3 separate regions of the Homo sapiens genome follow, and regions 1 and 3 are each linked to region 2. Evidence: fine-mapped expression QTL. A gene starts in region 2. Each other region holds a variant in brackets. All regions are shown on one strand. Distances are from middle to middle. Region 1 overlaps PCBP1-AS1 (PCBP1 antisense RNA 1). Region 2 holds the start of PCBP1-AS1 (PCBP1 antisense RNA 1). Region 3 overlaps PCBP1-AS1 (PCBP1 antisense RNA 1).

Evidence for each region. PIP is the estimated chance that this variant, and not a neighbour inherited with it, causes the effect.
Region 1: its variant is the best candidate, but not a certain one, in a credible set for the expression of PCBP1-AS1 in whole blood (TOPMed, PIP 0.79).
Region 3: its variant is the best candidate, but not a certain one, in a credible set for the expression of PCBP1-AS1 in nasal epithelium (TOPMed, PIP 0.57).

Annotation. Positions count from the first base shown.
Region 1 is chr2:70,006,186-70,016,636 of GRCh38, forward strand. The region is part of intron 7 of PCBP1-AS1 (PCBP1 antisense RNA 1); the gene reads right to left. It also overlaps a transcript of ASPRV1 not described here. Among named protein-coding and RNA genes, the nearest start is that of ASPRV1, 50 kb to the left of the region's middle. RefSeq lists an enhancer at 4,367-4,436. The variant T/C (reference allele first, on the strand shown) is at 5,118.
Region 2 is chr2:70,080,891-70,091,341 of GRCh38, forward strand. PCBP1-AS1 (PCBP1 antisense RNA 1) reads right to left here and starts at 6,125. Exons shown (of 11, transcript NR_033872.1): 1 at 6,088-6,125; 2 at 4,657-4,734; 3 at 2,648-2,797; 4 at 480-600. It overlaps PCBP1 (poly(rC) binding protein 1), which reads left to right and starts at 6,587. Exons shown (of 1, transcript NM_006196.4): 1 at 6,587-8,313. The coding sequence starts at 6,854. The coding sequence ends at 7,924. It also overlaps a transcript of ASPRV1 not described here. RefSeq lists enhancers at 5,184-5,323, 5,464-5,553, 5,594-5,803, 7,009-7,653, 7,725-7,891 and silencers at 6,014-6,163, 6,614-6,673, 8,700-8,749, 8,840-8,929.
Region 3 is chr2:69,967,030-69,977,480 of GRCh38, forward strand. All of the region lies in intron 9 of PCBP1-AS1 (PCBP1 antisense RNA 1), which reads right to left. It also overlaps a transcript of ASPRV1 not described here. Among named protein-coding and RNA genes, the nearest start is that of ASPRV1, 11 kb to the left of the region's middle. RefSeq lists enhancers at 5,124-6,001, 8,706-9,217, 9,218-9,728. The variant A/C (reference allele first, on the strand shown) is at 4,709.

The DNA.
Region 1 (10,451 bases), 75 kb before region 2:
CCTGTGCTGGGGCTGGGGGGTAAAACTGTCCCTGTTTGAGAACCACTGATACAGTCCTATAAAAGCCACAGCCACAGAGAAGCCAGGACACACAATCTTACCTCCCACCTCCGCAAAGGTCTGGGAGGACCAAGGCCTGGAGGTCCCACAGTGGGGCCCCCTACGGTTAGGTGTAGGAGCTGCAAATGAGGAGGCAAAGGAGGCCAATTCTGTTTCCTTAGGTGGGTGTAAATCTTCCCTCTTGCAGATGGAAAGAAAATGGGATCTAGGTGGCTTCTAGCTGGGAGGTACCTTCAAACTTAGGAGACCAAGAGGGTACAGGGGCAGCCTTCTCCAGCACCCAGTGGCCTTGGCCTCGGTTAGAGGGCATAAGAGGACACCAAGACTCATGGGAGCCCAGTCCAGCCCAGAGGGAAGAGGGCCAGATAGGATTCAGAGCTGAAGCCCTGGCCAAAGCAGAGAGAACACCCTTACTTCATAGAGCCTCAGGGTACAAGAACATCAGCAGCCCCTCTGTTCTCAGGAAGCAAGTGGGATCTGTACTTGGTCATAAAAAGAAGCCCATTACCCTTTACATAAAATAACATCCTGATCATTTAGCGCTATTAATGTGTAAAATGCACATACCCTTGACCTAGCAGGTACATTGCTATGAGTGTATTTTATGGCTATACCAGCACAAGTGCTCGGGGTCTACAGAGGGGCTGTGGCATACTAATCCAGAGTGCAGCCTTGGGTTGGGGCCTGGCTGCCTGGGTTCAAGTCCCAGATCTACCACCTACCAGGTATGTGATCTTGGGAAAGTTATTGACCTCTTTGCAACAGAGTTCCTTCATTGTGACATACAGGCAGTAAAAGGACCTATCTCTTGGGCTGCTACAAAGATTATGTAACTTACCATATTCCAACAACATAGTCTGTGGTCAATAAATGCTAGCTAAAAATCTGGGAATTTAAATGCCAATCATTGGTTAAATACATGTGACATATCCATTCTGTGAAATACTGGGTAGCCATTGAAAGAAATGAAGTAGAACGCTATCTACTTAAGCCGGGCGCAGGTTGCTCACGCCTGTAATCCCAGCACCTTGGGAGGCTGAGGCGGGTGGATCACCTGAGGTCAGGAGTCCTAGACCAGCCTAACCAACATGGAGAAACTCCGTTTCTACTTTAAAAAAATACAAAATGAGCCGGGCGTGTTGGCGCATGCCTGTAATTCCAGCTACTTGGGAGGCTGAGGCAGAATTGCTTGAACCCTGGAGGCGCAGGTTGTGGTAAGCCAAGATCGCACCATTGCACTCCGGCATGGGCAACAAGAACGAAACCCTGCCTCAAAAAAAAAAAGAACTATATCTACTTAAATAAGTAGAGCGTATTTAATAATAAGTAATAAATATGAATATATATATAATAGAAAAATTGTGCTAAATTTTATAATATAGATGATACACATGCAGAAAAGTATATATCATTTGAGCTTATTTGCATATAAAAAGAGCTATGTATAAATAGCTATGTGACTTTAACTGCACAGAAAGTTTCTAGATCCCTCAAGAAGCTCATTATATCTAGGGAGTGGGACTGGAGGACCAGGGAACTTTTGCTTTCTCCTTTGATATTGTTTTGAGTCTCCTACTATGAGTATGTATTTTTATTTATTTATTTAGCGACAAAGAGTCTCACTTTGTCACCCAGGATGGAGTGCAGTGGTGTGATCTCAGCTCACTGCAACCTCTGCCTCCTGGGTTCATGCAATTCTCGTGCCTCAGTCTCCCGAGTAGCTGGGACTACAGGTACGCTCCATCACGCCTGGCTAATTTTTGCATTTTTAGTAGCGACAGGGTTTCACTATGTTGGCCAGGCTGGTCTTGAACTCCTGACCTCAAGTGATCTGCCCACCTCAGCCTCCCAAAGTACTGGGATTATAGGCATGAGCCACCGTGCCCGGTCTATTTTTTTTTTAATAATAATATTCATCTTTTGAATGAGATAAATCTATCTCATTCATTCATTTCCGCTGCTGTGGAAAATTTTTCAAGATTTCTTATTAATTTTTTTAAGTGGCAGAATATGAGTAATATAATACAAGCCATAGGAACGAATCTCCATTCACAAATCCAGGTGTGCAAGAAATCAAATTTTAGTCTATAACTCAACTCATTGATTATGGTAAGCTTCAATCCTGACAATAGAAAACTTAATTTCAGGTATGTCTGAATTCTCCAGAATATTCAGAAGTGCCAGGCATGAGGCTGCCGATGAAGTCAGCAGAGGCCAGGTCTGGCAGCAGAGGCAGCCAGGAACCTTGGATCAGGTTGCCTGTGTCTTCACGGCCTAGTCCAACCTTGTCCAACCCACAGCCTGTGGGCCGCATGCAGCCCAGGACAGCTTTGAATGTGGCCCAATGCAAATTTGTAAACTTTCTTAAAACATTATGAAATGTTTTTGTGTGTTTTTTTTTTTTTAAGTTCATCAACTATTGTGTTAGTGTATTTTAGGTGTGGCCCAGACAATGCTTCTTCTTCCAATGTGGCCCAGGGAAGCCAAAAGACTGGACACCCCTGGCTAGCCCTACCATATGACTGCCTCCTTCTGGGATTGTAGTCCTGCCCCCAGCCAGCCTGGGGAGGACAGGGCTAAAAGGGTTGGGGTCCTTTCCACTCCCAAGGAAATCCTTCTTCCATCGTTTCCAGTCAAGGCATTCAGTCTGTGCAAGAGAATCCTCATCCTTTGATGAGCCACTCAGCAAATCCTGGAGTTGCCCTAAATGCTTAAGCTTTCAGCACACAAAAGCCAGAGATGCCTGAAGATAAATTCAGTTTTCTAACCTGAAAAGCTGCTCTGGAGGTAATGAGCTCCATAAATGTGAGGGCAGAAAAAGAGAAAATTCAGGAGAGAAAAAAATTAATTTCTCAGATACTATCCCTGCCACTCACATGTGTAAATGCAAAGCAAAAAGTGTAAACATTTCCACCAAATAATTAACAGTGCCTACCTGTATGGTAGGCTTTAGGATGGGGGAAGGGGTGCAAGAAGAGCATTTATATACTTGTCTATATATTTCCAAACTGTTTGGATTTTTAAATGATGAAGCTGTATTCAGCACTGCTTATATAATTTATTGTCTTATTTATTTATTTATTTATTTATTTATTTATTTTAGAGATGGAGTCTTGCTCTGTTGCCCAGGCTGGAGTGCAGTGGCACGATCTTGGCTCACTGCAACCTCCGCCTCCTGGGTTCAAGCGATTCTCCTGCCTCAGCCTCCCGAGTAGCTGGGATTACAGGCATGCACCACCATGCCCAGCTAATTTTTGTATTTTTTAGTGGAGGCAGGGTTTACCATGTTGGCCAGGCTGGTCTCAAACTCCTGGCTTCAGGTGATCCACCCGCCTCGGCCTCCCAAAGTGCTGGGATTACAGGCGTGAGCCACCACACCTGGCCATAACTTACTATCTTAAATAAATAAATACCCACACATCCTTTGCCTCCAGGGGGACAATGCAGGCCACATCTGTCTAGTTGGCTGGTGGGCAGACCTTTGGGAAGCCTATTTTCATGAGGGGTAGAAAGGTTCTGAAGGAAATAACTCTTTCTAAGGGAAGAAGGAAAACAGGCACAACAAGCTGACCCAGAGACAGTTGCGTTCAACAGCAAGAACTGATTCTGGGCTGGACTGGTATTTGTAATTTAGATGTATCTGTAGGGCGAAGCCCCACGGCTCTATAAGGCAATGCAGGGACCAGCAGCCCCACAGCACTGCTGCTATAGGAGTGTCCGTGACTCCCAGCAGGTATGGGGTGCCTGATGGGTGTGGCCGTGTCCAGCAAAACTGATAGCTACATGGGGTGTGGTAGGGGCAAAGGGAAGTCACAGAGCTGGAGGAGGGGAAAAGACGAAAAGGTAATGGTAATTGTCTAACCTTGTCCACTAGCACAGGAGAGTCACACACCCTGGGGATGCCCAAAATGCTCATGGGATGAGGGTATGTGAACTAGACAGGGGTCTAGTTCCCACACTGTCAAGTAGGGGCACGGGAGATACACAAGTGGAAAAGCTCTAAGGACGTGATAAGGGCACAAGAGTCCAGGTGTGTGTACAGGTGGGAAGCACAAGAGAGGGAGCCACAAAGTCTACAGGGGAGGGGCCAGGAAGGTCTCCTGAACAGCTGACGTGGGGTGATTCACAGTTGGATAGATAGGCAGTAGGGATTTGCGTGGCAAGGGTGGAGGGCACAAGGAACTGCATGTGCAAAGGCCTGGAGCTGAGAGAGTGAGCAAGCAGCGTTGGGGGGAACTGAAAGCAGTTCAAGCTGATGACAATGAATACAGGGGAGTGGCAGACAACGAGGCCACAAAGGTTGTGTTTCATGATAAGGAATTTGGACTTGATCCTGCAGGCAGTGGTGAAGCTCACAAGAGAAGTATTTAACAGGGAAATTAAATGATCAAACTTTCCAGTAACGTTTTTCACCACAACACTCCCATCTCTTTTAGTTAACTCCCACCCAGGCTGCAGTCTGAACATGAGAGCTGCTTCCTCCAGGAAGTGCTCCCTGAACACCCTCAGACTCAGCCCTCAGTCAAAACTTCTAGGGGTTCCCAAGCACCTCTGCCATCTTTCCCCACTGCACTGGGTCCTAATGACCTGTGCCCTGTCCTTTTCTCTCCTCCTTCATATGCTGTGAGTGCTGGAGGTCAGGACAGTATCTGTTATGTCCTATGTTGTATTCCCACAGCCTGCACAGAGCCTGGTATGGTAAGTACTCGATATGTATTTACTTAATGAAAAACACATTATCCTTAGCAAACTAATGCAGGAACAGAAAACCAACTACCACATGTTCTCACTTACAAGTGGGAGCTAAATGATGAGAACTCATGAACACAGAGGGGAGCAATACACACTGGGACCTCCTTGAGGGTGGAGGGTGGGGGGTGTGGGAAAAGGGAAAGGAGCAAAAAAAATAACTCTTGGGTACTAGGCTTAGTACCTGAGTGATGAAATAATCTGTACAACAAACCCCTGTGACACGAGTTTAACTATATAACAAACTTGCACATGTACCCCTGAACCTAAATTAAAAGTTAAAAAAAAAAAGTGTGAGAAGATAACTC[T/C]TGTGGTTTCCAACCAGAACTGTAGAGTACAGGTTGAAAACAGGGGGCAGGGGGCCAGGGAGAAGACCCTTGCAATCGTTTAGGTGAGAAGGGATGAGCGCCTGAGCTGAGGCAGTGGTGGTGGGGCTGGAGAGCAGGGAGAGATTGGGAAAATGTTTAGGAGGCAGAACTGATAGGCCAGGTGAGCAGATGAGGGAAGGGAGGGAGCCAGATAAGGGGAGGAGGACTCCTGGGATTCTGGCTTAAGCATTTGAGCAGATGATGGATTAACCAAGACTGTCTATTCTGGAAGAGGAAGCAATGTGTAGGGGAAGACGAAGAAACCAGTTTAGACATGCTGACTTTGACTTGCCTGTAAAGCATATAGGTGGAAAGGTCTCAGGTGGAACCACAAAACTGGAGCCCGGGACAGACATCTGGATTGAAGATAGAGATTTGGGAGCTGTCAGCCTGCAGGTGATGGTTAAAGACCAGGGAGGAAATAAGATCATCCAGGGAAAGGAGGAGGAGACGAAACAAGAAGAATGCCAACCTGTAAAGAGTGAGGGGAAGAGGAGCCACGGAGAGAAAGGGAGGCATGAGAGAGGGAGGAAAAGCAGGAGCTGAAAGCAGCATCACCGCTAAGGGAGAAGCAGCTTCGGGGGCTAGCAAACAGGGTCCAACAGTGTGAAGAAACAGAGCCTGCCCAGGCCTCCCTTTACAACTGAGGAAAATGAGGCCGAGGGAGGCTGATGGAGGGTGCTGGAGGCATGTGCTATTAGTACCCATGGTCGTATAGGCCATGGCTCTCAAATTATGATCCCTGGACTCCTGGGTCCCCAAGACCCTTCCCGGGGGATCCAAGAGATCAACATCATTTTTTTTTTTTTTTGAGATGAGTCTCGCTCTGTGGCCCAGGGTGGAGTGCAGTAGTGCAATCTCGGCTCACTGCAAGCTCCGCCTCCCGGGTTCATGCCATGCTCCTGCCTCAGCCTCCCGAGTAGCTGGGACTACAGGCACCCGCCACCACGCCCGGCTAATTTTTTGTATTTTTAGTAGAGACAGGGTTTTACCGTGTTCGCCAGAATGGTCTCAATCTCCCAACCTCATGATCCGCCCACCTCGGCCTCCCAAAGTGCTGGGATTACAGGCGTGAGCCACCGCGCCCGGCCAAGGTCAACATCATTTTTATAATAATACCAAGAGTTTTTCTGCAGCATTCACTTTGCGGACATTTGCACTGATGATGCAAAAGCAACAGTATTTGGTGCCTTCTAGAGCCTTAAGTCAATGAAGAGGCACCAAACTGCACCAGGAGTCACAGTCTTCACCCCCATGTACTTGCAGTTCAACAGAAAGGCAAACTTAATGTAAAAATGTCCATGATAGAGTAATAATTATTAATTTTATTAAAACTTATCCCTTGAATACATGTCTTATTAATACTCTGTACACAAAGCACTTCTGCTGAATACCTAAGTACTGGAAGCACTTACCTGATTGTTTGAATTACAAGCTGACTACTTGCTTTTTCATAGAACATCATTTTTATTAGGAAAAAAATGACTAACAAACTATGATTATTCAGACTTGGGTATTTGGCAAACATTTTCTCAAAAATGAATTAAGTGAACCTGTCACCTCATAGAAAACAACTGACAGTATTTGTTGCCAACTGTAAAATTTGAGCTGTCAAGTGAAGATTTAAAATTTTGGAAAATGTGTATCCATGCTGGTAGATACCTAAAGACTTCTTAACACCTCAAGACTTTTCTGATGAAATCAGTGGTAACACTGACAAATATGTTTTTGATATTATAGACTGAAATGTGCCTACATTTAGAAGATGTGAATAATTCACTGAACCATCATTTTCAAAATGACGAATGCATGATGTTACAAAATCAGGCATGAATAAAAGACCCATTCAAAGTGCAAGATAGAGCAATGAAGTTTAATATAGAAAAGTATGAGTTCACTGATATGGATTCAACTAATTTTTTACACACATTACAACTAATTTTTCAGAAACTGCCATTTGTCTAATTTTGATGACATAACAAAGAAGAGTATCCACCATGATCTAAAAAGGTTATTAAAATACTATTTTTTCCAACTCCAAATCTGTATGTAGCTGGATTTCCTTCATCTACTTCAATCAAAACAACATACACAACAGACTGAATACAAAAACAGATACGAGAATCCAACTATCTTCTATTAAGCCAAACATTAAAGAGAGTTGCAAAACTATAAAATGATACTACTATTATCTACATTTTTTTGTTGTTTTAGAGAAGACAGCTGTTTTTATAAAAAGTATGTTGGCCTGGTGCAGTGGCTCATGCCCGTAATCCCAGCACTTTGGGAGGCCAAGGTGGGTGGATCACTTGAAGTCTGGAGTTCAAGACCAGCCTGGCCAATACGGTGAAACCCCATCTCTACAAAAATTAGCCGGGTGTGGTGGTGAGCACCTGTAATCCCAGCTACTCAGGAGGCTGAGGCATGAGAATCACTTGAGCCTGGGAGGCGAAGACTACAGTGAGCTGCAATCGCACCACTGCACTCCAGCCTGGGCAAAAGAGTGAAACTCCGTCTCAAAACAAACAAACAAACAAACAAAAAAACAGTATGTTCACATGTAATGGATTCATTGTTGTTACTTTTAAATCATCAGTTTCTAATATGGCATTTTTCCAAAATACTAATTTTAATGTTTATCATATTTCAGACATGGTAAATATTGTTAAAACCACTAAATAAAAGTTATTTGGGGTTGTCTATAATTTTTAAGAGTGTAGAAGAGCATATCATTGGATTTGTCAATGATTTCTTGAATATAACACCCAAGGCACAGGCAACAAAAGAAAAAATAGATATATTGGACCTCATGAAAATTAAACACTTTTTTGCATCAAACAGCACTTTCAGCAGAGTAAAAAAGGTGATGCACAGAATGGGGGAAAATATTTGAAAAGCATATCTCTAGTATGGCTTAACATTGAGGATACATAGAGAAATTTAAATATTCCACAACAGAAAAACCAAACAACCCCATTCAAAAAAGGGCAAAGGAATTGAACAGACATTTCTCCAAAGAAGATATACAAGCACAATAAGCCCACAAAAAGATGCTAGAAATCATAAAAAGCATGGGGAAAAAAAAGGAGACATATGGGACTACATCAAACTTAAAAATTTCTGTGCAACAGAGGATACAATTAGGAGTGAAAAGGCAGCCGGGTGCAGTGGCTCACACCTGTAATCCTAACACTTTGGGAGGCTGAGGCAGACAAATCACTTGAGCCTAGGAGTTCAAGAACAGCCTGGGTAATATGGTGAAATCTCATCTCTACAAAAAATAAAAAATTAGCCAGATGTGGTGACATGTGTCTATAGTCCCAGCTATTTGGGAGGCTGAGGTGGGAGCATCCCTTGAGCCAGGAAGGTCGAGACTGCAGTGAGCCACATTCACGCCATTGTACTCCAGTGATAATAGAGCAAGACCTTGTCTCAAAAAAAAAAAAAAAAAAAAAAGAAAAAGAAAAAGAGTGAAAAGACAACCCACAGAATGGGAAAAAACATTTGCAAATCTTATATCTGAAAAGGATTTACTATCCAGAATATATTTTTAAAATTCCTACAACTCAACAACAAAGGGCAAATGCCTTCATTTTTAAAATGGGTAAAGGACTTTGAATAGTCTCCAAAGAAGGGACACAAATGGCCAACAATCATATGTAAAGATGCTCAACATCACTAATCATTAGAGAAATGCAAATCAAAACCACAAAGAATTATCACCTCACACCCATTAGGTTGGATACTATCAAAAATTTAAAAACAGACCCAACTATATGTGGCCTATGAAGATTAACTTCACATTTAAGAACACACATAGAATGAAAGTGAAAGGCTAGAAAAAGACATTTCAGGCAAATGGAAACCAAAGAGAGCAGGGGTAGCTATACTTAAAACAGACTAAGTAAAAACTGTAAAACAAGACAAAGAACATCATTACATAATGACAGAGGATCAATTTATCAAGACAATATAACAACTGTAAATATACAGCTGACCCTTGAACAACACGGGTTTGAACTGCACAGGTCCACTTATATGCAGATTTTTTCCAACCAAATGAGGATCAAAAATACAGTACTCACAGGATGGGAAACCCATGTACATGGAGGGCCAACTTTTCATATACAGAGGTTTCGCAGGGCAACTGTGGGACTTGAATGGTGCAGCTTTTGTTACACACAGAGGTACTGGAAGCAATCCCACACCAAGGGACAACTGTAAATACATCCAACATCAAAGCTTCTAGATACATAAGGCAAATATCAATACATCTAGAGAGAGAGAGATTATAATACAATAATAGTAGGGGACTTTAGGCCAGGTGTGGTGGCTCACACCTGTAACCCCAGCACTTTGGGAGGCTGACGTGGGCAGATCACTGGAACTCAAGGGTTCAAGACCAGCCTGGCCAACATGGCGAAATCACATCTCTACTAAAAATACAAAAATTAGCTGGACATGGTGGCTCCCACCTGTAATCTCAGCTACTCAGGAGGCTGAGGGAGGAGAATCACTCGAACCCGGGAGGAGGAGGTTTCAGTGAGCCGAGATTTTGCCACTGCACTCCAGCCTGGGTGACAAAGCAGGACTCCATTTCCATAATAATAATAATAGTAGGAGACTTCAATAGTCCACTTTCAATAAAGCCAGAAAATCAAAAAGGAAACATCAAACTTGAACTACACTTTAGACCAAAGGAAACTAACAGACATAAAGAACATTCCATCCAACAGCAGCAGAAAATACATTCTTCCCAAGTGCACATGGAACATTCTTGAGGACAACTCACATGTTAGGCCACAAAACGAGTCTTAATAAACTTTAGAAGACTGAAATCATACCAAGTATCTTTTCTGACCACAATGGTATGAAACTAGAAATAATAAAAAGAATTTTGGAAAATTTCACAAATACAAAGAAATTGAACAACATGCTCGTGAACAATAGCCAGACAAGGACACTACAAGAAAAGAAAATTATAGACCAATGGGACTACATCAGCATAGATACAAAAATCCTCAATAAGGCCAGGTGCAATGTGGCTCACACCTGTAATACCAGCACTTTAAAAGACTGAGACAGGAGGATTACTTGAGCCCAGGAGTTTAAGGCCTGCAGTAAACCAAGATTATGCCACTGCACTCCAGCCTGGGTGACAAAGCAAGACCAGCAAACCAAATTCAACAACACATTAAAAAGATCATCCAGGCCAGGCTCATGTCTGTAATCCCAGCACTTTGGGAGGCGAAGGCAGGCAGACTTGAGGTCAGG
Region 2 (10,451 bases):
GCAGTCTGCTAGTTTGAAACTCCTTACCTCAACCTGCCCAGCAGCTGGGCTAACTGTTTTGGTAGACACAGGGGCTCCCTATGTTGCCCGGGCTTGTCTTGAATTCGTAGGCTCAAACAATCCTCCTGCCTCTGCGCCCAAAGTGCAGGGATTACAGGTGTGAGCCACCACACCCAGCTATACCAACCCCAACACATTTCTTACATTTCTCAGAGAACCAAGAAGTGATCTCCTAACAGCAGTGCAGGGTCACCAGCATATGAGGTCAAATTGTTACTATCTACAATATGGGTAAGATACATTGCTTGGAAGTGCCTGTTTCTGGCTTCTGGCTGGAGGCTCACTTCCCAGCCTGGCATTTATTTATGAGAAATAAAGCTCTCCTTTCCAAATAAAAAAATTTTCCATCCTGGCTAACACAGTGAAACCCCATCTCTACTAAAAATACTGAAAAATTAGCCAGGCATGGTGGAACACGCCTGTAGTGCCAGCTACTCGGGTTGCTGAGGCAGGAGAATCACTTGAACCCGGGAAGCAGAGGTTGCAGTGAGCCGAGATTGCGCCACTGCACTCCATCCTGGTGACACAGCAAGACTCCATCTTAAAAAAAAAAAAAAATTTTTCAACAGATATATTTCCAACTGTAGTAACCTAGAAAGTAACAGGGGAAAGGCTCTCTCAATTTACTCTTTATTTTTTATTTTCTTTTTTTAGATAAGGTCTCACTCTGTTGTCCGGACTGAAGTGCAGTGACGCGATCATGGCTCAATACAGCCTCCAACTCCCGGGCTCAAGTGATTCTCCCATCTCAGCCTTGCAAGTAGCTGGGACTACAGGTGCACGCCACCACACCCAGTTAATGTTTTTATTTTTTTGTAGAGACAGGGTCTCACCATGTTGCCCAGACAGGTCTCCAACACCTGGACTCAAGTGATCCTCCTGCTTCAGCCTCCCAAAATGCTGGGATTACAGGTGTGAACCACCGTGCCCAGACTACTATTACTTTAAATAAAAGAGAAATAGAAAGATAAATCTTAAGAGAGAAAAAGAAACCACTTAAAAAAAAAAGCTACGTTAGTAGGGCAATTTTTTATTTTTATTTTTTGAGACAGAGTCTCACTCTGTCTCCCAGGCTGGAGTACAGTGGCACCATCTCAGCTCACTGCAACCTCTGCCTCCCAGGTTCACATTCACATGCCTCAGCCTCCCGAGTAGCTGGGATTACAGGCACGCACCATCACGCCCAGCTAATTTGTGTGTGTGTGTGTATTTTTAGTAGAGACACAGTTTTGCCATGTTGGTCAGGCTGGTCTCGAACTCCTGACCTCAGATGGTCTACCCGCCTCACCACCTCATCCACAGTACTTGGCCAGTACGGCAACTTTAAATAGCTATAGGCCAGGCATGGTGACTCACACCAGAAATCCCAGGACTTTGGGAGGCTGAGGCAGAAGAATCACTTGAGCTCAGGAATTCAAAACCAACCTGAGCAACACAGCAAGACCTCATCTCTACTAAAAATAAAAACAAAAAAATTAGGCCGGGTGCGGTGGCTCACACCTATAATCCCAGAACTTTGGGAGGCCGGGGCAGGCAGATCACCTGAGGTCAGGAGTTCGAGGCCAGCCTGACCAACATGGAGAAACTCCGTCTCTACTAAAAATACACAATCAGCCGGGTGTGGCGGCACATGCCTGTAATCCCAGCTACTCAAGAGGCTGAGGCAGGAGAATCGCTTGAACCTGGGAGGCAGTGGTTGTGGTGAGCCAGGATCGCGCCACTGCACTCCATCCTGGGCAACAAGCGCGAAACTCTGTCTCAAAAATAAATACATAAATTAATTTAACTTAAAAATCAGCCGGCATGGTGGGCACACACCTGCAGTCCCAGTTACTGAGGAGGCTGAGGTGGGAGGATTGCTTGAGCCTGGGGGATAGAGGTGGCAGTGAGCTACGATGGAGCCACTACACTCCAGCATGGGTGACAGAGCAAGACCTTCTCTCAAAAAATAAATAAAAATTAAAAATAAAAAAATTAAACAACCATAGTATGCTTGCTGAACCAGGTAGGTTACAGAAAATAAATGTGGTCCCTGCCCCCAGAGAACATAAGAGTCTTATTGAGGAATCCTTCCCACCCCTTCCAAACCCATAAATGTAAACATCAGGGAAAAGAGGGAAGAGATTTTCTAAAACAAGAGTTAGGAACTTAAGGTAAATGCATTGGCTGTTTGGGGACAGAAAAATAGTAACTGGCTAGAAAGCCTTTTGAGTTTAAGGTAAAGCTATCCCACACATCAAAGTCCATATCAAAAGCATCAGAAGCCATGGAAAGGTGTAATCCATAACTAAGAGTCAAGAGGTTCAGCTCAAATTCTAACAGGCTGTGTAACGTTGGGCAAGTCACTTCACTCCTCTAATCCAAAAATGGCTCTTCTGTAAAATGGGCATAAGACCCTACTGGCAAAGTTGTCTGTGATGATTAAACAAGTAACGTGAAAGCACTCTGAAAGGTTTTACGTGACATACCAACTTAACATAAGAGGAAGCAACAATCATTCCTCTGTATGTAGCATAAATCCTGTGGTTCAACTTCCAAAGTCTAAACCTGACTCACCTTCTTAGCCTTGTTAAACCCCTCAACCAACCTGTGGTCACTGAGAGGAGGCGAGTCATGTGTGAGGCTCCAGGCAGGGGTGGGGCAGTGACTACTCAGTCAATTGCTCCATGTCTCAGTGGTTTCATCTATAAAATGGGTGGTGTGGAATTCACTCAGGTATCCACAAGATAATGCAGGTCTGAGGAAGGGAGTGGAGATTTTACCAAAAGTGCAGAAAACATTTACATAAACCTCCCACCCCGCCAAAGAAAAATAACCAAAGTCATCAAATATCATCAGTCCCTGGACATAAGTAGAAGGACCCTTAGAGATCATTTAATCTCTTGCTTTATAAAAGGGAGAACTGAAACCCTGACAGATGAGTTGTAGAAGTCTCAGAGCTAGACAGGGGCAGAGCTAGGACTAGGGCCCAGAGCCTCAGATTCCAAGGTCCAATGACCTCTTTGCCAGACCACAGCATCACCCAAGGTGTCTGTATGACATGTTACCAACCCCAAGACACATTACAATTTAACCAACGTCCAAACGTGGGCTACCGAAGGGAGAAACTGTTAAGACTCTCGGGGAAGGAGGGAGGCTAAGAGCTGGGGAAGCTGGGAAAGGGAAGGCTTCACTGAGGAGGTGCACTAAGTCCCAGGAGTACATAACAGGAAATTATGGAAATATTTCAGTAGGTAGTCTTGGAAAGAAAGACCTGACAGATAAAATTTTCTCTAGAGAAAAGAAATAAGTTAGATTTAAAAGACCAGAAGAAGGCTTTGTTTGAACATTCCTTGATTATATGCAATTTAGTCCTTTTGTTGTCACCTGAGTTTCTAACACTTGGTAATATTTTTAATTCCCTCATCTATTCTGTCTCCCTATGAGACAGGACTCTCTGCAGAGACCACATCCAGTTTAGTGGTTAAGAATGGAGTCTCTGGACTCAGATTGCCTAAATTCAAATCCTTGCTTTACCACTTAATAGCTGTGTGACCTTGGATAAATTCCTTCACTAATCTGTACCTCTGTAAAACTGACCTAATATCACCACCCATTTCAGGAGGTTTTGTGAGGATTAAATGTGTATAAGCGGTCACAACTTATTAATGGGTTTTTAATCACTTTATAATGTGTCCTTTTTATATATAAAGAATAGAAATTACCCAAGTACATATACTGCATGTAGTAACAAATATTGTTTTGCAAAAATTTTGTTACATATGTGTGCATAAATGTCTTAAATCATAATGTAAAATTTGTTTCTTAGTGGTTTTTTTAAAAATGTGAGACACTGAATACATAAAATAAGGCTTAGAACAATGCCCAGCACACAGTAAGCACCTAGTGCTGTAACTGTCATCGTTGCTGTTATGTACCTATTAAATGTTCGTAGAGTTATATAAACTAACATGAAACCACTTTGGAAAATATATCTGATAGTAACATAAGTTAAAGGCAAAAAGCCCTTCTCTTTGTCTCTCATATCCACACACAATCAGAGCCCTGCTCAGGCACCAGTTTGTTGCTTGGCCCACTAGCTACGTGTTGCATTGAACTGAAGAGTCCACAGACTGACCTAACACTCTGTCATGCTCTGTCAATCTCTGCAGAGAAATGGAGGCTTGGTGCCAGAGCGAATTTATTTTTACCTGGTTGGGGTGCTGGGGTGGGGGAGGCAAGAGTCAAGCCCATGGGGAGCTGACGGAAGCAAGTCAGTCATACAAAAAACCATTTGCTCCCCCAGAGGCAGGTAGGCTCAAATGTGCCACAGACAGGGCCAGACCGACAGACACCTGAGCCTCTGGGCAGGCTGAATCACTTCCCCCTCCCTATCCTCACCAGACACTGCATAAGACAGCATTTCAGCCCGCCCGCCCGTTACAGGTGTAGCTCTTATCAGGAAAAGCTGGGAGCTGCCTGATACAAAAAGGGGCTGACTGCACAACAAAAGATTACCTGAAGGGCTCATTTAAATGACAAGCTCACCTAAACGTTTTAAATAGTATTTAAATTCCAAAACCCTGATTTACAGAAAAACCTGGAAAATGTGCTCACCAGTAAGGAAATCTGGAGGTCCATCCCCGACATTGTGTGACCTTGAATTAAGCACTTCATCTTTATGTTTGTCTTCCTCTGTTTAAAAGAGAGAGAGAGAGAGAGAGATAAGAACACCTACCTCAGAGGACCATGGTAAAAATTAAAGATAGAATACGGTGAACTGCCTTGCATCGGATGTGCTGGCACTGGCCAATGCACAATAAACGCCTGTCCCTTCTAGACTAAAAATGAACACTTAATTGTGGTAAACTATTAATAAGATTCACCGGCCAACTGTCCTATGAAAAAGTCAGAGGCACTGTAGTCTCTTCGTAGCTCTCGTTCTCTCCAGCACAACAGCCCATGCTAGGAAGTCTAGAAAAGCAGTAACTTATCTCATTCCTTAAATTAAACAGAGGTTTCTAAATGCTTTGGTACTGTGGGGACCCAAATTATCCCTTGATACTGCCCCCCTATTATCCACTATTAAGCTTTAAAAAGGCGAGAGATTAAATATTGTGCCCACATTTTACAGTCATTCGCGTTCCCGTTTCAAATTAAAGGGAGGAAAACGCGTTAAAATTAGGCCTCCGACCTTCAGACCAGCCTGTGGGCTTTTTTAAGTCATAAAACTCGCGGAGGTGGAAGGCCCCGGGGAGGAAGAGGGGTGCATTCTAGAGCTTTCGGGCCGACCCCAATTTCTCGTTGGCGACGAATGCTAACCACGTGTCGCCATTTTGTGTTCAGGAAACATGGCGGCCGCCCCAAGGGTAAGGAACAGGGGAGGCGGAGTAGCGCCACGTTAGCCGCTTTCCCTGAGAGATTGTGAAGCACGTTGCGCACGGGGCCCTTTCTGGTCTGGCTTAGCCCAAGGAGGAAGGGGAAAAGGCAGAAATCACAACTCATAGGCCAGCGTCTTGAGCGACACTTCCTCAGCGGGAAGAACCGGCAAAAAAGGCCTTCCAAGATGGCGGGCCCTGACGGGGCCGCCCCCCTTGAGCCTGGCGCAGTGGCTGCGCCCATGGGCCCGAAAAGCAGCCGCGGGAGCCCAGGCCGCGCGGGGAAAGCCGCAGAAACGTCCTGAAGCCCTGGCCGGCAGCCCCTGAACAAACGAGGCCTCCACAGGCGTACACTATTGTTTCTAATGTCGGAAAAGGGTGCCGCGGTGGAAACGACACAAGGGCAGGAGGTGGGGTTTCTGTGGCTTTAACCGAAAGAAACTTGCGAAACGCAAACAAAGCATTATGTAAATGGACGCCATTCTTTTTAGGACCACGTTTCTAGCACGCCCCACAAACAGCAGAGCCGCGATTCGGCAGGCGGCCGTGAGTGGGTTTCGGTCTTTCTGCCCACCGGCCGCCGCCGGGGAGCAGGAGCTGGGGTGGGGGATCCATGCAGGGCGCCCGGACGCCGGGGACGAAAGGGCCCCACGTGCCCGCCCGCGCGCACCCGCTCCGCAGGCCTCGCCTCGCCGCCCCTCCCCCCCGGAAGAGGGCTGCTGCCCCTCCCATCCCCCCACACCCTCGCGCACGCGCTCTGGTCACCTCACGCGCATGTTTTAAACCCGCGGCGTCCCGGCTTGTGCCTGCAGTTTCCGCCGGGGCTGCCCATGTCGTTCCGCGCACGAGCCCCTCATGTAGGGCAGGAAAATAATGTCTATCCCGCATACACAGCACTAGTATTTTCAGTCACCCGCCAGTGCCGTTAGAGTTAATAAAATACGTCATCATTTTAAAACTTTGCCGGACTCACAGCTTCCGCCCATCGTGCGCTTCATTTTCACTACTGCAGTGTCAGAAGGTTTTTTTTTTAAGGACCATGTAAGGGTTGGCGCAATCTTGTGACCTAAAAAAGACGGGTCCTCATTTTTTTTCAAGGGGTCCTGCGCAGCAAGCACTTCCGGGGTCAGAGGGTACGCGGGGTTGAAAGCGGGCTTCCCGCCCCGCCCAGACCGCCGAGGCTGCCGCCGGAGTCGCCACCGCCGCGCCCTCGCCCACCCGCCCGCCCGCCGCTCCCGGCCCCGCTCGCCCCCTCCGCCGCCGCCGCCCGCCCCTGCGACTACGCTGCGGCCTCCCGCCCGCTCCCGCTCGCTCCCGCGGCCCTCGCTCGCCTCGCGCCGGCAGTTTTGGGCCTACACCTCCCCTCCCCCCGCCAGCCGCCAAAGACTTGACCACGTAACGAGCCCAACTCCCCCGAACGCCGCCCGCCGCTCGCCATGGATGCCGGTGTGACTGAAAGTGGACTAAATGTGACTCTCACCATTCGGCTTCTTATGCACGGAAAGGAAGTAGGAAGCATCATTGGGAAGAAAGGGGAGTCGGTTAAGAGGATCCGCGAGGAGAGTGGCGCGCGGATCAACATCTCGGAGGGGAATTGTCCGGAGAGAATCATCACTCTGACCGGCCCCACCAATGCCATCTTTAAGGCTTTCGCTATGATCATCGACAAGCTGGAGGAAGATATCAACAGCTCCATGACCAACAGTACCGCGGCCAGCAGGCCCCCGGTCACCCTGAGGCTGGTGGTGCCGGCCACCCAGTGCGGCTCCCTGATTGGGAAAGGCGGGTGTAAGATCAAAGAGATCCGCGAGAGTACGGGGGCGCAGGTCCAGGTGGCGGGGGATATGCTGCCCAACTCCACCGAGCGGGCCATCACCATCGCTGGCGTGCCGCAGTCTGTCACCGAGTGTGTCAAGCAGATTTGCCTGGTCATGCTGGAGACGCTCTCCCAGTCTCCGCAAGGGAGAGTCATGACCATTCCGTACCAGCCCATGCCGGCCAGCTCCCCAGTCATCTGCGCGGGCGGCCAAGATCGGTGCAGCGACGCTGCGGGCTACCCCCATGCCACCCATGACCTGGAGGGACCACCTCTAGATGCCTACTCGATTCAAGGACAACACACCATTTCTCCGCTCGATCTGGCCAAGCTGAACCAGGTGGCAAGACAACAGTCTCACTTTGCCATGATGCACGGCGGGACCGGATTCGCCGGAATTGACTCCAGCTCTCCAGAGGTGAAAGGCTATTGGGCAAGTTTGGATGCATCTACTCAAACCACCCATGAACTCACCATTCCAAATAACTTAATTGGCTGCATAATCGGGCGCCAAGGCGCCAACATTAATGAGATCCGCCAGATGTCCGGGGCCCAGATCAAAATTGCCAACCCAGTGGAAGGCTCCTCTGGTAGGCAGGTTACTATCACTGGCTCTGCTGCCAGTATTAGTCTGGCCCAGTATCTAATCAATGCCAGGCTTTCCTCTGAGAAGGGCATGGGGTGCAGCTAGAACAGTGTAGGTTCCCTCAATAACCCCTTTCTGCTGTTCTCCCATGATCCAACTGTGTAATTTCTGGTCAGTGATTCCAGGTTTTAAATAATTTGTAAGTGTTCAGTTTCTACACAACTTTATCATCCGCTAAGAATTTAAAAATCACATTCTCTGTTCAGCTGTTAATGCTGGGATCCATATTTAGTTTTATAAGCTTTTCCCTGTTTTTAGTTTTGTTTTGGGTTTTTTGGCTCATGAATTTTATTTCTGTTTGTCGATAAGAAATGTAAGAGTGGAATGTTAATAAATTTCAGTTTAGTTCTGTAATGTCAAGAATTTAAGAATTAAAAAACGGATTGGTTAAAAAATGCTTCATATTTGAAAAAGCTGGGAATTGCTGTCTTAAACTCTTTGTTGGTGCCTTTTTTTTCCCTCCCCTTTTAGCCTGAGGTGTTTGGAGGGAGGAGGGAGAAGGGTGGGCCCGTCCTTGGTATTCTCTCAAGCTCTTCTCACCTTATCGGTAAGATTCCATTCCCTCTGTGCCCCAACAAAGGAACATGGCAGGCTGGGCCTGCTTTGGGATGTTTCCAGGGACAGAGAGGTTCAAGTTCCAGAGAGAGGCCTCTGCCCATTTCTCTGGTAGAAACAAGGTTTTCTCGAGGGGAAAAGGTGTGCCCACTCAGTAGGACCTCTAAATGGCAGAGCGTCCTCTCCATCTAACCAGTTCCCCCACCCCCACCTCACAGGATAAACTTAGGAACAAAAAAATATTCTGGGGTGGGAGGAGCCTGGGGAAGGGGTGTGGGGGCAGGGAAAGGAAAGGAAGGGAGGGCAGTGGGCCGGGGAGGATTGGGGGCTTGGAGGAGGGCAACAGCTGCCGGGTGGTGGTGGGACTAGAGGGGTCTTGGTTGGGCAGCAGGGGTGGGAAGGGGGGAGGGGACGGTACCAACGAGACGCACGTGTCAAGCATGCACCTGTGGCAAGCAGCCTGTCAGAGGATGTTATTACACCTGCCAAGTGGTGTATCCAGAAACAAAAGAGGCCCAGTTTCCAATTCTTCAGCTGTGTGCAATGTTTAGAGAATCCCTATACCAGGAAATAATCCTGCCTAAATGGGTCAGTCTTCACAAGGCGGGAATGTAGACTGATGCACTGACTATAACCTAAGAATGATCTGAGTGTTAAAGATGCAGATTCCTCTGTCCCACCCCAAAACTAATCAGCTGTATTTTTAACAAACACCCCAAAGGAGTCTTAGATTTGAATGCCACTGATTGTCTTCAGTGGAGGAGGAAGATCCCGCTGTGAAGGCCGTAGCACCCTCACGCCCACGTCAGCCAATAGGACTATCCCTGACCTGATGAGAGAAGGAAAACTGCTAGGCAAAGGCAACATTAGAAACAATAGTATGAGAAAATAGAGCCTGAGATGAGGGAAAGAAGAAACAATAGTATCAGACAATAGACCAGTAGGTGCCAAAGTGGGTAGTTCAAACCCCAGGCACTATGGGAGATCACTCATGGCAAAGAGAAGTTCCTGTGGGAGGGGAGTATTATCCACAGTAAATATTCGTTGAGGCTTATTATGTGGTCACGCAGGGTTAGGCAAGCAGTCACTGAAAGGAGCCCAAATTCTGGAGTTAGACTTGCTTTCAAATTTGAGTTCTGCCTCCTATTCATGGCTTTGGACAAATTAATCTCTATAAATGAAGATGTTAAAATTAACACCTTCTGGGCTTGTGAAAATAAAATGAAAGCATGTATATAAAACAGAACAGTGCTTAGAACACAGTAAATTTCAGTGTACTCGATTATAAAAAGCCAAAAGGCCCATTTCTGGGGGCTGAGGGTTGGCCACAAAATCTGGGCAGAGAAGACAGATGATTAAAAGGTAGGAAACAAAGCAATGTGTATTAAATGAGTTGGACTGAGAGGCCAAGACAGGTGGGGAGGGAGGGGGACCTAGTGAAGACCCAGAAGTGGGTACCATGCCTTCTGGGAACAATAAGCACAAATCCAAATCAAGGCAAGAGGGGATATAAGCTTGAACCCTCAAACACCAAGCCAAATAGTCTTTGAAGAATCCCTGAAATGCTGGGTGAAGCAGTTTGAATGCCCTATGAAAAGCAGGTCTTAATACCAAAAATTAGGCCAGGTGCAGTGGCTCATGCCTGTAATACCAACACTGGGAGGCCGAGGTGGGCAGATCACTTGAGCTCAGGAGTTTGAGACCAACCTGGGCAACATGGTGAAACCTCGTCTCTACAAAAAAAAAAAAAAAAGAAAAAAAAATTAGACAAGTGTGGTGGTGTGCACCTGTAGTTCCAGCTACTTGGGAGGCTAAAGTGGGAGGATTGCCCTGCACCTGGGAGGTCGAGGCTGCAGTGGCCTGTGATCATACCAATGCACTCAGCCTGAGCGACAGAGCAAGACCCTGTCTCAAAAAAGAAAAAAGAAAGAAAAGTAGGCCTCAGACTTTCCTGAACCTCCTCCCCACTGCATCTTATACTGGGCAAAGCTGGCAATAATTTGTAAAATAATGATTT
Region 3 (10,451 bases), 110 kb before region 2:
GCACCTACTGTGTGCCAGACACCATGCTCGTGGCTGTAAATCAGTGTCAGGCACTCAGAGAGTCTGTGCCATAGACAGGAATGGACAATGCCAAATAGGTGGGTTGATTCAATTCCATACATACTTACTGAGGCCAACACCGCCTCACTTGGAGAGATGAATCAGACCTGCGCCCTACCCTCACAGAGTTCACAGATAAGTAAGAGAGACAGACTCCAACCTAGCTACTCAGGGATGAGCATAGGAGGTGCGGGGCACACTGGAGTCTTCCGGGCAAGATGGCAGCCCAAGGAGCCTCAGGCAACTCCCGCAACCAGGTATCAGCCAGTATCACCAGAGAAAAACAAACATGAAAGGAATATTACAGGGGAAACATGCAGTAGCCCTGAAACCAGGGAACAAGGGCATCCACAGACCAAAATCTTGGATTAATTTTTGTTGCTAAAGGCAAACCATCTGAGCGGGGGATGTGGATAGTGAAGGCCCTGAGAATGAGTTAGTGCATGTGGACGCACAGGATAGGATGCCTCGGAGAGATTGGGATAGTCTCTGGGTAAAATGGAAACAGTGTCTATGAACACAGAAAAAAGACTAGGAAGAAAGACACCAAAACAATGACAGTGGTTATTTTGGGGTAGTAGAATCATGAATGATCTTAACTTTCTTCTACAGATATTCTGTAAATATATCCTCTAATAAGAAAAAGTTATTTCAAATTAAGAAAACTTGTTCTTGCCATTTTCTGTAAGCTTAAAATTATTTCCAAATAGGCCAGGCATGGTGGCTCATGCCTGTAATCCCAACACTTTGGGAGGCTGAGGTGGGTGGATCACCTGAGGTCAGGAGTTCCAGACCAGCCTGGCCAACATGGTGAAACCCTGGCTCTACTAAAAATTACAAAAATTAGTTGGGCGTGGTGGCGCATGCCTGTAGTCCTGGCTATTTGGTAGGTTGAGGCAGGAGAATTGCTTGAACCCAGAAGGCGAAGGTTGCAGTGAGCTAAGATAGAGCCACTGCACTCCAGCCTGGGTGACAGAGCAAGACTCTGTCTCAAAAAAATAAAAAATAAAAATAATTTCCAAATAAAGTTTTTTAATAGGGAATAAATAGGAAACTTCTGTACCTTTCACTCAGTTTTGCTGTGAAATCTAAAACTACTCTAAAAATAAAGTCTATTAAAATTTTAAGTTTTTTAAAAGGTGCTTTAAAAACTGGTACATCGACCAGGCATGGTGGCTCACACTTGTAATTCCAGCACTTTGGGAGGCCAAGGTGGGTAGATCGCTTGAGGCCAGGAGTTCAAGGCCAACATGAAAACACCCTGTCTCTACTAAAAAGACAAAAATTAGCAGAGGATGGTGGCACATGCCTGTAGTCCCAGCTACTTGGGAGGATGAAGTAGGAGAATCACTTGAACCCAGGAGGTGGAGGTCGTGGTGAGCCGAGATTGCACCACTGCACTCCAGCCTGGATGACACAGTGAGACCCTGTCTTGGAAAGCAAACAAACACAAAAAAAACTGGTCCATAAAATAAGATTGGCAATATTAATTATTGTTAAAGCTAGAAAATAGATCTAAGAGGGTTTATTTGAGTTTCTCACCACTTTGGGGTGTGTTTGAAAATTTCCCATAGTAAAAAGTAAATAATAAGTAAGCAAAGGCTGTGCCAAGACCCTCCCCAGCCTGGTCTGCCCAGCTCTTGGCCCACTCCTGGGCCGTCTGCATGGGCCTGAGTCTTGGGCACTGGAACCCCTGGTCGCTGGGGACAAGCAGTCCCGACTGTGGCTCAGTGTCCCTGGTCTGTGTGGCGGCTGCTGAACGGACTCTCCCCTGCAGCATGGGCGTCTCCCAGGGCAGCCGCTCCAGCCTTGCACCCTCCCGCCTCGTGTCATGTACACTCTTTTCCTGAATCTCCAAATTCTCACTCTCCGTGGGTTCCCTGCCTTTATCCAAATTAGCACTCATGAGACTTTCACATCTTAAAAAAGAAAACCCTCACATGATCCTGTATCTCCTTGGTCAATGACCACTTGTTGCCTTCCTTGACAGGCAGTTTCTAGAAGGGTTGGTCCACACTCACAGGGCCAAGGTGCACAGATGCCCCACTGTGGGGCAGGTGGAGGCTGAGGCATAGCCTGCACTCCTCTTGCCAAGCCTATGTGCCAGAACGAGGGGTTGAATCTGCCTGGAGGAAGGGGTGCCCCTTTCTAATTTGCACACGGTGTGGCATGGTCCGAGGCAGCCCGCTTACACTCTGCCTCATGGTGTTACCTCCATTCACACACAAAGCCTCACCGCCCTCTGCCGTCAGCCTTGCCAGGGACATTGGCGGTTCCCCGAGGCTGCAGTCTGGCCCTCTCAGCCTCAAGGACTCTGGCCTTCTGAAGCCCTCGCACTGCTGTTTTCCTCCTAGGTCTTCTCTGCGCCTTTGGTTTCTGTATCCCAAGTTTCTGGGTCTTCTGCCACTACGACCACTCCCCTCTGTCCTTTGTGGGTTCCTCTCTCCCTGGATACTCACAGATGTGGCTCCCTGAGGCTCTGTCTACAGGCCATTCCCCCTCATTCCACACACTCTCCAGGCCAGGGACACCCCTCTCTGCACCGCTTACCCATCCTCTCCCCACTGCCCCAGCTGCCCACCTTACATGTCTGCCTACGAGTCCACTTTCAACAGTGAACATGCTGTCTTCTCACCAGACACCCTCTGCCTCCTGTGTTTTTTGTTTGTTTCGTCACCTAGGCTGAAATGCCATGGCTCCCTGAAGCCTTGACCTCCCGGGCTGAAGCAATCCTCCCACCTCAGCTCCAGTTCCACCTTAGAGGGGATCAGAGGTGCACACCACCACATCTGCCTAATTCTCTTAAATTTTTTTTTTTTTTTGGTAAAGACAGGGTCTCCCTACATTGCCCAGGCTGGTCTCTAACTCCTGGGCTCAAGCAATCCTCCCGCCTTGGCCTCCCAAAGTGCCAGGATTACAGGCATGAGCCACCACACCTGGCTCTCTGTGTTCTTTATCTGGCAATGGCACTACTATCTAGCCAGCCCTCGGAGTCACAGACACAGGGGGCTTCCTCACCTCCACCCCTTTCTCACGGCCCCACCTGGACTGCTGGGTCGCCAGTGCCCTCAGCTCCTCCTCCTGAGTCTCTCTCCTGCCTCCATGCCTCTTCACACCCTGGCCTCAGGGCACCCTGCTGAGGTCGGTAGTCATCCTACAGGACTCCTTGCCTCCTGCCTCCTCTCCATTAATCCACCCTCCTCAGGCCACCAGAGTCATCTTCCAAAGATGTAAGTCTGCTCATGCCATTCTGCTCAAAATTCCTCCATGGCTCTTCATCCCAAAATAAAATCTTGACACCCAACAAGACTCACGAAGTCCCCCTCCCTAGTTCATGCTCTACCTATACAAAATGGCGTGTAGCTCCCCAAACAGGACGGGCTTTCTCATACCTTTTCACAAGCCACTCAGCCAGATGAGCCCTCTGACACCCCTGTTCTCCTGGCAAACACTGAGAAGTCAACTAAGACACTACCACCTCCAGGAAGTCTCCTTTGATTTCCCTAGCAAACTCAGGGTCTCCCTCCTCTAAGGTGCTATCATAAGGGACTGCCAGGCCCAGCTCCTCTCTGAGTTGCAGCACTGGTACAGTCTAAACATGAAAGTCCCGGTGTTTCTTGGCCTTTGGTCTCATCCACAACCTGCACATCCTCCAGCCCAGGCTGTCCTCACCTTTTTCCCATGAAGCATTGCCTGATCTTCCTCAGCAATTGCTTCTGCCTCGATGGCTTTGAATATCAGGCCTGGCAGTGCTCTTTAACTGCAGATGAGCAGCATTCAAAGTTGCCTTTTTTTGGCCGGGCACAGTGGCTCATGCCTGTAATCCCAACACTTTGGAAGGCCGAGGCGGGCAGATCACCTGAGGTCAGGAGTTCGAGACCAGCCTGGCCAACATGGTGAAACCCTGTCTCTACTAAAAATACAAAAATTTGCCAAGTGTGGTGGTGGGCACCTGCAATCCCAGCTACTTGGGAGGCTGAGGCAGGAGAATTGCTTGAACCTGGGAGGTGGAGGTTGCAGTGAGCTGAGATCATGTCACTGGACTCCAGCTTGGGTGACAGAGTAAGACTCTGCCTCAAAAAAAAAAAGTTGCTTTTTTTTACTGTACTCATAGTAAGAAAGACATTTTTCATCATAATCCAGTACACATATCCATGAAGATATATGTAGCTAAAACAAAATGTATTTACTATGTGTAATATACTCTGATATTTTCTATTTGGGGCCACTTCTTTTTTAACTCTTTTAATGACACTGAAAACTAATCTCCCAACCCACTAATTGATCCCCACCCACCATTTGGAAAACTGCTATAGCCAGCAGGGATGACTAAGGGCTCCCAGCAAGGGATCAATGTGATTAGAATAGAACGTTAGGACCCTGCCTCTCAAATGTTCTAAGGCGCAGGATCGTTTTGTAAATTTCCAATCTGTCACATACTTTACTATTTAAAAACACAATAAGAATGAATTATCTGAAGGTAAAATAACAAAGATATTTAAAAATGCAAGTCTAGATTCATTATAATTAGATTCAACAGACAGTGCGGGGTGCTAAGAGCATCAGGTGCAAGAATGTTTGGGGAGGCCGGAGATGTGAGGCGGCTTTGCCAGCCTTAGGATGCCCACAAGCCCTTGACATGTAGCCA[A/C]GCCAGCCCTGCCAATCTCCGTCCTGGAGCATTTGAACTTGCATCATCTGGGGGAGCTTTGCTGAGGAGAAAGGTGCCTCTGCGCAGTCTTTGGCCTTGTCAAGAGGGCCAGGCTGCCTAAATTCAACTCCTGACTCAGCCACTAACTGGCTGCAAGCTGTGGACAAATGACTTAATTCTTTCAAGCCTTGGTTTCCTCCTAGGATTGTCCTGGGAGATTATTCAAGCAATCCGTACCATGGGGCTTAGCCAGTACTGCACCTGGTTACACTCGACCCTCTTGCTTTCATGGCTGTGATTCGGTTGCTGTCTTCTAGGTTTTCTTTACCATTTTTTTTTTTTGAGACGGAGTCTCACACTGTCACCCAGGCTGGAGTGCAGTGGCGCGATCTCGGCTCACTGCAACCTCCGCCTCCCGGGTTCAAGAGATTCTCCTGCCTCAGCCTCCCCAGTCGCTGAGATTATAGGCGCCCACCACCACGCCTGGCTAATTTTTTGTATTTTTAGTAGACATGGAGTTTCACTATGTTGGTCAGGCTGGTCTCCAACTCTTGACCTCGTGATCCTCCTGCCTCAGCCTCCCAAAGTTATGGGATTACAGATGTGAGCCACCGTGCCCGGCCCTTTTTTTTTTTTTCAAGATGGAGTCTTGCTCTGTCGCCCAGGCTGGAGTGCAGTGGCGTGATCTCGGCTCACTGCAACGTCTGTCTCCCAGGTTCAAGTGATTCTCCTGCCTCAGCTTCCCAAGTAGCTGGGATTACAGGCTCCCGCCACCATGCCCGGCTATTTTTTGTAATTTTAGTAGAGACGGGGTTTCACCACGTTCGCAGGACTGATCTGGAACTCCTGACCTCAGGTGATCTGCCTGCCTCAGCCTCCTAAAGTGCTGGGATTACAGGCGTGAGCCATTCGCCGGGCCTGCCGTCCTCTCGGTTTTCATGAGTGTTCTGCAGTCCTCCTTACTCTTCCTCGTCCTCCCTGGTCCCTTTTCTTGGCCCCACACTGACTACTCTACTCAGGCCAAACCTTCACCCTTCCTCACTTCTCCACCTCCTGCTTGCAGAAGATGGCTTGCGTCCTGCTTGGCAGAGAAATGGCGAGCTCTCACTCCACCCTATCCCAGGTTTTCTTCACTTCTCATCCCTTTTCAGGGACTCTGTGCCTGGCCAGGCTAATCCTTCCACCTGAGGCCCCCTCCAACCTCCTCAGTAGCCTCTTTCCATCAGCCATTCCCACCCTCTTCTGGGAATCTTTCCAGAGTCAAATCTCTGGCCACTCCTCAGACTAAGGCAACCTGCCCAGTAGTATGCTGGTAGATGTTTAATTAACAATGAGCTCTCTGGGGAAAATGCATGCATATATACACATACATACATTTATGATAAATTTTATTGACATAAAGGATGGCTAATAATTTACAAATAATAAAAAATATATACTACTCTTTACTGTAAATTGCATATGGCCAGTTGGGTCTTACAGGATGCTTTCATTGATTTTTGCCAACCTGCTGAATCTATAACCAGCCTACAGTTGTAACTGATAAATGAATGTAGTTCCAACATGAATGTTAACTGATATTTTTGTTTGTACCAACTAGCAAGAAAAAAGTGAAGCCAGAAAGACAGATGTTGGAACTTCACTTGTTGTTTTTTTTTTACAGAATGGGTTGCCCAGAACTTGGAGTGCAGTGGAATGTTCATAGCTCACTGTAACCACAAACGCCTGGGCTCAAGAGATCCTCCTGCCTCAGATAGTGCACACCACGCCCAGCTAACTTTTTTATTTTTTGTAGAGAACTGGTTTAGTTATATTGCCCAGGCTGGTCTTGGACTCCTGGCCTCGAGCAATCCTCCCGCCTGGACCTCCCAAAGTGCTGGGATCACAGGCAAGAGCCACTGCACCTGGCCAGAACTTTACTTGTTTGTCAATGGTGTTAGCAATTTCTTTACTGAAGCAGAGAATAGTTTTTGAATACTGGAAGAATATTTCCTTCATTTTTCTGTGCCATTCACAATGCAATGGCCATTGGCAAAACATACATTTAAGTTTAATGTGCATTATTAGCATTTTCTCCATAACCTTCTTAAGTCTAGATAGTCAACCAAATAATGAATAAAGCCCTGATTTGTGGTGGTTGCTGCCCACTTCTGTGGTGTAAATATTCCCACTGTGGCTGATTTCAATCCACCAATATGATGTCACTGAATGCAGACTTGGGGAAAAAGCACAGTAACACAACATTATATAGTATTTCCACAGATGTAATAGATGTACATAATCTTAAAAGAATAAAGAATAATAAAATATAAAATTATTGCCAGGCATGGTGGCTCATGCCTGTAATCCCAACACTTTGGGAGACCGAGGCGGGCAGATCACCTGACGTCAGGAGTTCGAGACCAGCCTGACCAACAAGGAGAAACTCTGTCTCTAATAACAATACAAAATTAGCCAGGCATGGTGGTGCATGCCTGTTTTCCCAGCTACTCAGGAGGCTGAGGCAGGAGAATCCCTTGGACCTGGGAGGCGGAGGTTGCAATGAGCTGAGATCGTGCCATTGCACTCCAGCCTGAGCAACAAGAGTGAAACTCCATCTCAAAAAAAAAAAAATTATTAGGAAGTGATGGTTTTTGAAAATTTATTATTTTTGCCTTAATATAATTCATTTAATTGTAAGTTTATATAATTTAATTTATAATTTAATTTTTCATAATAGCTGGGTTTAACCATTGGTTCATGAAATTCCTGAAGATTTAACAATCAGCTCATAGGAACTGGTATGATCTGAGCACACCTGGATCTGAACCCCAAGCCCAGCTCTTCCTTGAGCAGGGCCCTCAAAAGGCTCTCCAAAACCTGATGGCCCTGCCCAATGTATATTTTTCAGATCTATCAGCGAAACTGAACTCATTTTCTTTCTCTCCAGTCTGCTCCTCTGTGGGCTGCCATGTTGGTGGAGGGCTTCGCCATTCACCCTGGGGTGGCAGGAGTTGTGGATGAGAACTCTGGACAGGAAGAAGGCTGGGATCAGAGGATGGGGATTTTGGAATTGTTTAGAGCAGAGGTGAAATAGTTTTGGGTAATGACAATGTTGGGTGGGTGAAGAGTCCCTGGGCTGAGGAGGGCACAGAACCGTAAGGCTAGGCTGTTCCTGGAGGTCGGGGTATGGGCTGATGGCATGTTCACACTCCTGTTACATCTTCTGTCAACTAGCTTCCCTGCAACAAGCTGTGTCTGACAGTCCTCCAGAGCTCCTGGGGCAGGGGTCCCAGAGCCGACTGTGGGTCACACGCGACAAACTCCCACACCCATATTCCTCTGGGATTGCTCCAGGCTAAGGTTGGATTCTCAGGCAGGAGGAAGGAGGATCAGCCTTGGCCAGAGGCACAGAAAGCTGCAAAGCCCCCAGCCCCTCCCTTGAAGGGCAGAGCTCCTTTTGAGGACAGAGAAGATCTGGAGGGGATGTGGAGGCAGGTGTTTAACAGAGGACTTGAATGTATCTGGGATTTCCATGGCAGTGATGCCTGGACGGAGGCCAGAGTGTCCTAGGTGAAGTGGGGGATTCTGAATGGAGCCCACAGACAGCAAGAGCCCAGCCTGCAACCCACCTTTCCTTTCACGTCACCTGACTCCCTGTCCGCACTGCTGCCCCTCGGCCTCCCTGCCGGTGCTGCTCCTCCCCCGAGAAGCTTCCCTGCCTCCTCCCATGTACTTCAGGGAACTGGTAAGTTTGGAAAGCACCCAGAATTACTTGAGGAAAAGACTGTAGCAAGTACAATTTGAATTTGCCAAGAGACTTTGCCACCAAATTCACTTGCCTAGAGAGAGAGGCGAAGTCCATGGGTTTCTCCCTGTGGTTCTGTGGCTTCACCGGGAAAATGTGGGCCTTGCTGAGCTATGGAGGGGAAAGGAAAGGAGCGTGAAGGAGACAGGAGGCAGAAGCTCCTCACAGTGCCCAGCACGCAGTAGGGGCCGAGATGATGTGCTGAATGATGGGCCTCATGGCCATGTGAGTGGAAGGCCAGGCAGAGCTGCTTGTTTAATATCTCCTACTCTTTCCCCCGTGGTCAGTGAATTTGCTTTTGGTTTTGAATTTGCTTTGGCTGAACCAGGGACAATTTCTACATGGCCTTGAGGCCACAGGCATATGTAGTCAACTGCACACCTCAGGGTGCAAGGGGTTACACCTGTTCCTTGCTCAAAAGTCATGGGAAGTTGCTAAACAGACCAAAAGAAGAACCAGCACGCTTACTGCTCTCCGTCCTCCCCTTCCCCACCCCACCCCCAGCTGTTAGCTCACAGAGGGTCAAAACAGGCAAGATAAAATCTGTCCAACTCACAGCTTCAAAGGAACACAAGTTAGACATGTGACCCAACCGCACCCAGCCTTGTCCCTCCCAGGTGCATGGCCCTGGAAGGCCCAACCCTCCGGCCACGTGGTCCGTGTAGAGGCCAGGTGGGCAAAGCCTTCCGTTCCAGACCCAGTGCTGCCCTCCCATGAGATCCCAATCTGATTTTGGTCTTCTTGTAGTTCTCCTTGGAAGCCAGGCCCAGCCCCACACTGCCTCCTCCTCACGCTCACCTGGCTCCCTCCAATCCGATCTGGGGCAGGAGGCGATGCAGACCGCAGTCTTCACCGCAACCTCGACCCTGAGGGCCCAGAGTCAGTGCTGGAGCCACCTACCAGGAGTCACTTCCATAGCCCTTGAGGCTGAATGAGAGCCCTCGGGTTCTTGGATAGCAGAGAACACAACCCAGACATGGCTCTGGATATGAAACAAATCCTTTCTGAACCTGACACCAGACTTTTCCCCAGAGGTGATTTTTTAATTATTTTTTGAATGCTTTCCAGATTTGACTGAATGAATGGGTGACAATGACCCTAAGTCATGAGCCTTCAAGGCCTGTACACTTGTGGGTTAAGAAAGCCCTTTCTCAGCCTGGCATGGCTGGCCCCCTCCCTTTCCCCCTCCAGGCACAGAGTGTCCTGGTAAGGTATGATGGCACAATACAGCCTCTCCACGCCTTATTTCCACCATCTCCTGTCACTGTGCCCCCATCAAAGCACACACAGAGAGAGTCCCAAATCAGACCAACCTATAGGAACAGAGTGCCCCTGACAAAACACACACACTCATACACCGAGGAGACACAAACTGGGCAAAAATGGGACAGGCAAGGTGACTCATGCCTGTAATTCCAGCACTTTGGGAAGCCGCGGCAGGTGGATCGCCTGAGGTCAGGAGTTCGAGACCAGCCTGGCCAACATGGTGAAACCCCGTCTCTACTAAAAATACAAAACTTGGCCAGGCATGGTGGCGCGCACCTGTAGTCCCAGCTACTCGGGAGGCTGAGGCAGGAGAATCACTTGAACATGGGAGGAGGAGGTTGCACCACTGCACTCCAGCCTGGGCTACAGAGTGAGACTCTGTAAAAAAAAATAAAAAATAAAAAGGAAAAAAATTGGGCAAAAATGTAGAAATTCAATTTTACTGAACTTTTTTAAAAAATTATGGGAATTCCCAGTGTCTCAAAAGAAAATGACAACCTCCAGACAAGCACATTTAAGTAAACAACATAAAGGCACTGACAGCCACTGTGGGTGGGAAGTCACTGGCAATGGGAGCCCTGCCCCCTCAGGGTTCCGTCATTGTTTTGCAGGTGCGATTCCTGCTTCCCCCACCATTCTGTAAGTTGTGTAAGATGCTGTCGAAAGATCACGGGGCTGAAAGGCAGGAAC